2 separate regions of the Homo sapiens genome follow, and region 1 is linked to region 2. The links come from fine-mapping of genetic effects on gene expression. Tissue or cell type: whole blood. Region 2 holds a variant in brackets; the other region holds the start of a gene. All regions are shown on one strand. Distances are between the middles of the regions.

The links. PIP is the estimated chance that this variant, and not a neighbour inherited with it, causes the effect.
Region 1: it holds the start of TOR3A, and the variant in region 2 is fine-mapped to the expression of TOR3A in whole blood (Lepik 2017, PIP 0.95).

The regions. Positions count from the first base shown.
Region 1 is chr1:179,079,170-179,084,320 of GRCh38, forward strand. It overlaps TOR3A (torsin family 3 member A), which reads left to right and starts at 2,901. Exons shown (of 6, transcript NM_022371.4): 1 at 2,901-3,218; 2 at 3,771-3,884. The coding sequence starts at 2,960. RefSeq lists silencers at 2,876-3,165, 3,306-3,475, 4,466-4,525.
Region 2 is chr1:179,330,724-179,335,874 of GRCh38, forward strand. It overlaps SOAT1 (sterol O-acyltransferase 1), which reads left to right. Exons shown (of 16, transcript NM_003101.6): 4 at 4,783-4,934. Among named protein-coding and RNA genes, the nearest start is that of AXDND1, 33 kb to the right of the region's middle. The variant TG/T (reference allele first, on the strand shown) is at 2,966.

The DNA.
Region 1 (5,151 bases), 250 kb before region 2:
AGACCTTCTTAAAGTGCAGGTTTTGATTCAGTATGTCTGGGGCCTGAGATTCTGCATTTCTAACAAGCTCCTGGGTGATGCCAGTGGTGGGGTTCTGGAACCGCCCTTGAGTAGCACCGTAATGCTTGCTAAAGAATCATAGTTGTCTGTAGTTTTCCCAGCAGCCTCTAGATGTCCCCGTCATCCATGAGATACTGCTTCCAGAACTTTAAAACGAGCACAGCCTCCAAGGCCTGAGACGGAAAGGAGTATTTATTGAAATACTCAAGAGACGTATCTAGAAACTGGTGTTTGGATTTATTGTTTCTACACGGGACTGACTCTTTGGTGAAAAAGTGTTTACCTCTTTTTTTTTTTTTTTTGGAAAAAAACGGCCAGGCGCAGTGGCTCACGCCTGTAATCCCAACACTTTGGGAGGCTAAGGCAGGCAGGCAGATCACCTGAGGCCAGGAGTTCGAGACCAGCCTGGCCAACATGGCGAAACCCCGTCTCTACTAAAAATACAAAAAAAAAAAAAAAGCGGGGGCGTGGTGGTGAACGCCTGTAATCCCAGCTACTTGGGAGGCTGAGGGGGAAGAATCGCTTGAACCGGGGAGGCGGAGGTTGCAGTGAGCCGAGATTGCACCACTGCACTCCAGCCTGGGCGACAGAGCAAGACTCCGTCTCTAAATAAATAAATAAATAAATAAATAAATAATAAAAATGTCTTGAAATCAAGTTGGTTGTCGAAGAACTTCCCAGCTAACCTACTTTATTTACAATGGGATGCTAAATCCAAGTCAGAACATCTCAGAAATGAGCAGGTAGCCCTACATAAAAGTTCCAAGTACAGATAATTCTTTCCACAACATCTTAAAACTTGGATTGTTTTAATAAACTATTGTTACTATTAATTTTTTCACCATAAATTCACTTATAAACCACCAGTATTAACTAAAGCCATCCTTGCCTCCTGTGTAGACCACCCAGAGCCTCCTCCATGGCTGGGTAGATACAAAAATAAAACTGGCCACGTATTGAGTGTTGATGATGTGCTCATTGAATGAGCTCATTTAATCTTCACAGCAGCCCTATGAGGGGACTATTTTATTATCCCTTTTTATAGGTGAGGAAACAGGCATGGGACGGTTCAGTAACATCCATGGTTGCACAAATAGAAAATGGTAATCACTATATTAGACTGCCATTCAGACTCAAACGACATTTGTTGAGTGAGTTAATTTTTTTTCTTTTCTCTTTTTTCTTTTTTTTTTTTTTTTGAGATGGAGCCCTGCTCTGTCACCCAGGCTGGAGTGCAGTGGTACCATCTTGGCTCACTGCAACCTCTGCCCCCTGGGTTCAAGCCATTCTCCTGCCTCAGCCTCCTGAGTAGCTGGGATTACAGATGCGCACCATCACACTCAGCTAATTTTTGGATTTTTAGTAGAGACTGGGTTTCACCATGTTGGCCAGGCTGGTCTCGAACTCCTGATCTCAGGTGATCCGCCCGCCTCGGCCTTCTAAAGTGCTAGGATTACAGGCGTGAGCCACCACACCCTGCCTAATTTTTTTTGGTTTTCCAATAAGCACTGTGGTGTATGTGCTGTTAACTGTCTCCGGTGGACTCCGCAAGCTCGATGTACACAGTGCTGGGCTGGTGCCATGGCTGCTACTCTATGAAAAGTTTTTGACATCACACTGAATGGCTGAGACACTATAAACATTTTACTTTTCAACTCAACCTCGTGTCCTAGCAAAGGTGCTTTATCTAGTTTCTGTAGCTGTTCGAATGAAAGGCACAAATTTGGTGAGCTGCTGAGAATGGAGCAGACCTGGCACGGTGTGATCTAAGAGACTGGGGTGAACAGATGAATCAAGTTGCCTGTGACATTTGTGAGACACGGTGCTAGTATTCACCTTACTGTCTGGAGGGCCCAACCTCAAAGCCACTAAACATATGACATTAGCCAAGTCCTCTGATCTCTCTAGACAGCAGTTTTCTCCTAAGACAAGACGGCTTTTTGGCTTGGCTGAAGTAAGCCAGGTGATTTTAAACAATGCATTAAGCTCTTCTGAAATCTAACAGCCTTGTTCCATGCTCCTCGCTATGGAGAAGAGAGCGCTGAGGGAAAGAGGCCCTGTAGTCTTTTGCCAATGGTGTCGGATGGGCTGCTCAGTCCCAGCACTTGAAAGTTGCAAACCTAGTCAAGAAAGTGCACACAGTACTTCGGATTTTTATGAGATATAATTACATTGACATGACGCCTCATGATTTACCCATGACTCGGGGGGTTTCCAAACTCCAAACACCTCCAGACTGGAGCCCGTCAATCAGCTTCCTCTTGCTTTTCGTGGACTCCCACTGTGGAAACCTGCTGGTGTTTTGCTGCGGTTTCATTTCCCTCTGCGGAGGAGCCAGGGCAACCTTGGCCAGACAGGCACCTAGCTGTGCCCTTCTTTCCAGGGCCTCTTCTCCACTCAGCTGACTCCCCTGGCCTGCCTAACGCTCCTGACTGAGACGGTTTTCCGGCTTCCTCTAACAGGTTGGCGGGAAGTTGATCTGCAAACGCGAGGCAAAGCAGGAGTGTCCTTATTCGGTAGGCCTCTGATGGGCCACCAGAGCCGTCCGAAAGTCCTAGCGGAGTGATTGACAGTGGCCATTTCAAAGCCTGAGTTCACCTTCTTTGCAACCACAATCACGACCCAGAATAAACTGCTTCCTGGAAGCCGGCTAGTTGCACCTGGCCTGAAGTCAGTCTCGGGACTGCCTCTCAGGACCCCAGACAGGGTTTCGGGTTCCCGCCTGGGTCACGTGTACGGAGGCTGCCAGTGCGCACTCAGCCCGGCCCGCCGGTCGCCACAGCAACACCAATCCCGGGTTCAAGCCCGCCTAGGAAGTGCGGTCCCCGCCTGACCGCCCCGGGCTTAAGGGAGCCTGGCTAGGCCGGCAGCCGGATGGTCCCGCAGCTCGGGGCCGGCCATGCTTCGCGGTCCGTGGCGCCAGCTTTGGCTCTTTTTCCTGCTGCTGCTCCCGGGCGCGCCTGAGCCCCGCGGCGCCTCCAGGCCGTGGGAGGGAACCGACGAGCCGGGCTCGGCCTGGGCCTGGCCGGGCTTCCAGCGCCTGCAGGAGCAGCTCAGGGCGGCGGGTGCCCTCTCCAAGCGGTACTGGACGCTCTTCAGCTGCCAGGTGTGGCCCGACGACTGTGACGAGGACGAGGAGGCAGCCACGGGGCCCCTGGGTAAGACCCCGTCCCCACGGTCCGCCGTTCGCTGCGGAGCAGAGTGCGATCCGGGCGCGGCTGTGGTCGCCTCGCTCCTGTCCGGGGCGACATCTGGGCCCGCAGTCCTGCTCTGCTCAGCCGCCGGTACCGGCTGTGGGCGGGGGCAGCCTCCGCGGAGCAGGGAGCCCCATCACCGCCCTTGCCCCACCCGCGTCCCCTGCGCACCCCCCTGGCGCCCGGCTTCCCGTCCCCCGCCTCCCCTGATCCCTGCGCTTTCCAGATTCTCTCGCACCGCCTGTGCCATCTCCCAGCCCACCCTGGCGTTATTCGAAGGTGTTGCTCTTGACAGCTCTAGGGAACGTCCGCTGTGGACATGCCTGGTGACTGCCGTCTCCCTTGCTGCTTTTGGACGCAGGGCTTGAGGACCGACAGTGGGCCGAGTCGGGGCTGGGAGTTAGAATCTGAGTTCTGGGTGTCCCTCTGTCCCTGACAAGTTGTGTGGCAAGGTTGCCGCATCACTGTAGAGCACCGGATGGTCTCCTCTCGGTCTCACAGCTCCTCCTTTTCCAGGCTGGCGCCTTCCTCTGTTGGGCCAGCGGTACCTGGACCTCCTGACCACGTGGTACTGCAGCTTCAAAGACTGCTGCCCTAGAGGGGATTGCAGAATCTCCAACAACTTTACAGGTTGGACCCCGCATGGCTTCAAGGGGCTAGGGATCTGTGGGGAGGGGAGGCAGTCCAGGGGAAATGGTTAGATGCAAGGGACCTTTCGTCATCCTGCCCAGCCTCCCGACAAGCAGGAACTGCCACAGTCTGACTGAAGTTTTGAGGGAGTACCAAATGCTTGAGTCAGGGAAGCCCCTTTTTAGCCTCTAGCTTAATAGCCCAGGCAAACTGAGCTGTTTGTCAGGCCCAGAGCACCTTGTTTCACTCTAAACAGAAACAGCTACCTCTCAGAGGGGGCTGGAACTATCCAGAGAGAACTGATCAGAAATTCTGGGTTGTGATTAAAAGTGTCCCTTTCTTTTCTTTTTTTTTTTTGAGACGGAGGCTTGCTCTGTCACCCACACTGGAGTGCAGTGGTGCGATCTCAGCTCACTGCACCCTCCGCCTCCTGGGTTCAAGCAATTTTCCTGCCTCAGCCTCCCGAGTAGCTGGGATTACAGGTGCCTGCCACCACGTCCGGCTAATTTCTGTATTTTTAGTAGAGGCGGGGGGGGGGGGGGGGGGCGGGTTTCACCATGTTGGCCAGGCCGGTCTCGAACTCCTGACCTTGTGATTTGCCTGCCTTGGCCTCCAAGAGTGCTGTGATTACAGGCGTGAGCCACTGTGCCATGGCAACCAGTATTTTCTAATTAGTTTGGGTTGCTTGATTTGCATATCGCAGTTGATTTGCATTTTCACTCTCACAAGGTGATCTTTGGCCCCATGTTCTGAAACCTGTTCAGACATTTGCAAAAGCTTCCTCTCTTTTCCCCAGGAGCAATTTCTTGCCCAGAGTTCTCCTGATCCCAGGTCCTTCAATCTCCATAAATGAGGCCCACCCCAGATATTTAGGTCACTTAATTGGCCAAAATGCCAATAACACAGTGTGTTTAGGGACACAGTCTGGCTCAGGACAGAAGATAGGACTACATACAGGTCAGGAAGTCTTAATTTGGATCACTGCTGACTTGGATAAGACCCTAGGTAGCAATTAGCAAGTTACTTTCTGTCCTCAACATGCCTTTTGTTCGACAAGGGCCTGGATATCCAAATTGTTCTGGCCAGCGGATTGGAGACCCCTCCTAGTCGTGCCTCTTCCTTGCTGGCAAACTGAAGAGTCCTTCCCAAGTGTCCGTTTCCTCAGCTGTATTTTATTTTATTTTTTTTACTTATTTATTTTGAGACCAAGTCAGTCTCTGTCACCTAGGCTGGAGCAATCTCGTCTCACTGCAAACTCTGCCTCCCA
Region 2 (5,151 bases):
CAAAGGCAGTTTCACATTCATAGGCTGTGGTCCTCCTTATTGCCCACATGGCTCTAGTCATTTTGTCTGAGTTCCAAGTGGCCAAATTGAGGGAAGGAAAGGAGTGGGGGTAAGGAACAGGTATCTGTGTCTGTTAAGGAAATTTTCTGTGGACTTTGACAAATCATTTCCACCTGTATCTCATTGGCTACCTAGGTGCAAAGAGAGACTGGGAAACTTATTTACTCTAAGCAGTCATGTGCCCAGATAGAAATCAGGGATTCTAGTACTAAGAAAGGGGGTAGGCACTGATAGGGTTGACAAATAACAGTTTCTACTATGGCTGTCCATTTTTCTTTGCTGTCCCAATCTACTGGTCAAATTTCACCTTTTTGCTATGCAAGTGTGACTATACATTTTTCTGATATTTTCCTTTCTGCCTTTTCTCATTTAAATGCACGAGTGTAAGAATCTCTAGTCTATTTTGAATAATTTTGTGAAAGTCAGTTTATTGTGCTTTATGATTTCATCACTTACAAAAGGTAGACAGGTACCTGTCCTGTTGCCCTCGAATGTTTAGCAGTTCAATTTAATGAATGCCTGCTTGGTTTCTTTGTCTATCAGGTACTACATTAAGTGCTGGGATTTTAAAGAAGTTGTGTTTTCTGTTCTCATGCTAACTGAGAACACTATATGCAAAATGCATGAGCAAGGGGAACAGTGACTTAATTAGATACCTTAAAAATGTTCTTTGGCCAGGCACAGTGGCTCACGCCTGTAAACCCAGCACTTTGGGAGGCCAAGGCAGGCAGATCATTTGAGGCCAGGAGTTCGAGACCAGCCTGGGCAACACTGTGAAACCCCGTCTCTACTAAAAATACAAAATTATCAGTTAACAAAAAGATACATCGTTTAAAATCAGTTGGGTGGGGGGCAGACAGTGAGATGCCAAAGAGCATATACACTTGAATATATAGAATTTCAAGTAAGTGCAATGAAGGAAAAGAATGAGATTCAGTAAGAGAGAATAGAAAGAACTTTAGAGTGAATTATCAGGAGACCTTTCTGAGGAGTCAATTTAGTGTAAGTCCTAAGCACTGTATTACCTGTTCCATTGTGTTACTTGTTTTGCTCAGAAAGGTCAGGTTTCTGGTACCATGCCACCAAGATTAAAAGATTCTCTGTGCAAAGACAGGCAGCAAATCAGAGGAAGAAATAATTTTTAGACTAGCAATATATGACCTTGTGGAGTTAATGTTCTTTAAAACCATTTATGAAGAAATTGTGATCAAGGGACCTACTTTTTTTTTGAGACACTGAAAATATTATTATTTACTGATTGGTTTACTTTGTTTTTTTCTTTCAGCATACTTTAAGATTGTTTTATGTCTCTGTACCTTTGAAAGAGTTATTTACCCATAAATGACCCTGACCTTTTTTCATTGTAATACTCAGTCCAAAGTAATCTCTGCCTGGAAGCCTTTTTAGGTAGAAGAGTTATCTTTCTAAGATGCAAATCTGAACATGTTTACAAATCTTGTGCTTAAAATGTCATTGGCTTCCAGATGTCTTTAGGATAAAAAATTCTTAAAATGGCTTAAAGGTCCATGATCTAGTCCCTACTTGCTTTTCCAGCCTTATCTCTGATCATTATCATCTGTTCCTTTAACTATGTGTTCCAACCATAGGGTCTTTGTATTATGGTTGATCCCTATTCTTGGAATCTTAGAGGTTATCTAATTCAGCTGCTTATTTAATACAAAAGGTTTCCTTAAGCTCTAAAAATGTAGTTTACTAGATTACCTAAAAAAGCACCTTTTTTAGTTCCTAGTTAACTGCCTCCTCCCTTCTGCCGCTTCTCCCTTCCTTCCTTCTCTCCATCCATCTGTCATGGTGCTAGGGCTGTCAGAGTCCACTGGCTGCATGAAATTAATATCAGTAGATACGAGATTGAAAAGATAAGCAAATTAGAAAGACTATAACCTCAACATTATTTTCAGGTTACTGATACCAGACATTATTCAGATTTATTAGTGATCACATACTGAGTTCTAATTAACAAGTTTCATGTGATAGAAGTCAGAAGGCAGAAGTGGACTGTTTCTTGTACTATATTTCTTAATATTCCCTCTTACAAAGGGAGTAACAATAATAAGCAGTTACTCGTTATTGTCATCACTGCTAGGATCTGTGAAAGGAGGAGATTCAGGAAATGTAAGCGTCCACAGAGCAGAGTTCTTTCTTCCTTGTGCCCCAGTGGCAGCACCTTCTATCAACTTTAATTCCTCAGAGAAAGAGGAGAAGGGCATTAGGAAATGAACATTAGGCATGTAATTATAATGCCATGTAAAGGAATGTGGTAGGTTTAGTTACCTTTTAACAATAAAAGGACTAAATGATAGGATTTGCTTAAATTACAATTTTTATTGTACATTGTTTTATTGTTCCTCATAGGTTAGCTCAGACTGAGGGGGAGAGGTTGGAACAATGAATACCTGGAGAGTGACAACTGTGTCAGGTGCTATCCTGTGTGTTTTCAGTTCCAGACCGTTATCCATGTGTAATAGTTTCTATCCTGCCGAGCTTCATTTATAGAATCAAATTGAAAGGGAAAACACCTGTACAACCTGGCCAATCAGACAGCCTCACATATCTTTTTCTTCATAGTATCTTTTAACTAGGATATTCCTCTTCTAAAAAAAAAAAAACAAAGTCTTGGCTGGGCACAGTGGCTCACACCTGTAATCCCAGCACTTTGGGAGGCTGAGGTGGGCGGATCACTTGAGGCCAGGAGTTCAAGACCAGTCTGGCCAACATAGTGAGACCACATCTCTATTTAAAAAGGTAAAAGTTTCAGGCGGGGCACGGTGGCTCACGTCTGTAATCCCAGCACTTTGGGAGGCCGAGGCGGGCGAATCACCTGAGGTTCGAGACCAGCCTGACCACCATGGAGAAACCCCGTCTCTACTAAAAGTACAAAATGGGC[TG/T]GGTGTGGTGGTGCATACCTATAATCCTAGCTACTTGGGAGGCTAAGGCAAGAGAATTGCTTGAACCTGGGAGGTGGAGGTTGCGGTGAGCTAGTATCATGCCGTTGCCCTCTAGCCTGGGCAATAAGAGTGAAACTCCGTCTCAAAAAAAAAAAAAAAAGTTTCAAGGAAGAACTCATTTTTTGTCAAGTGGTGAAAGCAGCTAGCTGAATAATATTCAGGACTGTCAACCAAATGGGAGGTCAGAAGCTCACCCAGTCGGCTGCAACCATGGCGGAGCCAGAGGGGCTCAAGGGGCCTGTGCTATACCAAGGCTGCAGTTCCTTGCAATGCTCTAGATGACCCTGGGCAGTCTATTCTTGAGCCCCTTCATAGTCGCTGTGATTGTCAACTAAAGAAAAGCTTTTTAAGAATTAAAGTTATTGTATTTAGAAGTCTTATTGAGAACTGTAGACAGAGCCTGCTGCCTGGGAGTAGTCTTTTAGAGAGGTTTTGTTAGCCTTTTCTGGCACTGTATTTTAGTCTACTGTTTATGTATAGGTGGTGGGGGTTTCGCATATGTAAAATTATGTTACGTTTGTTTAGAAGTTAGAAGTTATATTAGAGTAGAATATGTTAAGGTTTGGTGTAAGAGTATATTTGGTTATAGATTATAGAAGTGTAATTACTAACTGTCATTTATAGGAAAAGGCAAGGTTATTATCTTCAAGGAATATAGTGACTTAGGCAAGATATGTGGGGGGAGTGTGTGTTTTATTTTGTCTTAAAAGTATTTGGAAAGCTGTGTATCATCATAGAGTCAAGAACTTTGTGAAATTGTGTTGGCAAGCAGAAATGAGTAAATATGGCTTTTTTTGTGGTTTGTTATTTTGTCTCGCATATGGATACCTAAACTACTCACATATGAATGTTACTTCAAGAAAAGAAAATACATGAATTGATCATATTAAAATAGTTACCTTATAAGTGACATTCTGTACCGTCTGAGGTGTCAGAGGTTGGGGTCATAGATGAGGGAGATTGTGAAAGAAATTTACAATACTGGGCCAGGTGCGGTGGCTTGTGCCTGTAATCCCAGCACTTTGGGAGGCTGAGGTGGGCGGATCACCTGAGGTTGGGAGTTGGAGACCAGCCTGACCAACATGGAGAAACCCTGTCTCTACGAAAAATACAAAATTAGCCAGGTGTGGTGGCGCATGCCTGTAATCCCAGCTACTCGGGAATCTGAGGCAGGAGAATCACTTGAACCCAGGAGGCGGAGGTTGCGGTGAGCCGAGATCGTGCCATTGCACTCCAGCCTAGGCAACAAGAGGAAAACTCCATCTCAAAAAAAAAAAAAAAAAAAAAAGAAAGAAAAAAGAGAACTTAGAATCATGGTAATTATAACGTGGGGATAAGGCACAGTGCCGCCTGCCTGTAATTCTAACATTTTGGGAAGCTGAGGCGGGAAGATTGCTTGAGCCCTAGAGTTCAGCTTGGGCAACATAGGGAGACCCTATCTCTACAAAAAATAAAATATTTGCCGGCAGTGGTGGCGCACACCTGTGATCCTAGCTACTTGGGAGGCTGAGGTATTTTGTTTTATGCTTACAAGGGGTATACATTTTAAAAGGGTATAAATCACTATGTTGCCTTTTAGGTAGCTGTTTCTGAAACTTCAAGTCAGATACAGGAATTGATTTTTTGCTTTTACTCCTGCGAACTCACTATGTCTTTCTTTTGATCCAGCTCTGTTTAAGGGAGCCCTTTAGAGAAATGCTAATGACTCACAAGCATGTATTAGTTCCCCATCTTTTTCTTTGTTTTAAAATTCTAGGAATTGAAGCCATTTTTTATGAAGGAAGTTGGCAGTCACTTTGATGATTTTGTGACCAATCTCATTGAAAAGTCAGCATCATTAGATAATGGTGGGTGCGCTCTCACAACCTTTTCTGTTCTTGAAGGAGAGAAAAACAACCATAGAGCGAAGTAAGTATGTGCTATTTTCTTTTAATGCAAACATCTACTCAGTATAGTTCAATGGTGAAAATGGACTGCGGCAAATATGCTTGAGTTCACACCCTGGTGTCACTTTCTATTGGCTGTGTGTTACATTGGGAAAGTTACTTAACCATTTGAAGGAGGATGGGGATTTCTTTGTCTTTACATATAAATTATAACATACATGCATACCTCTTTTAACACT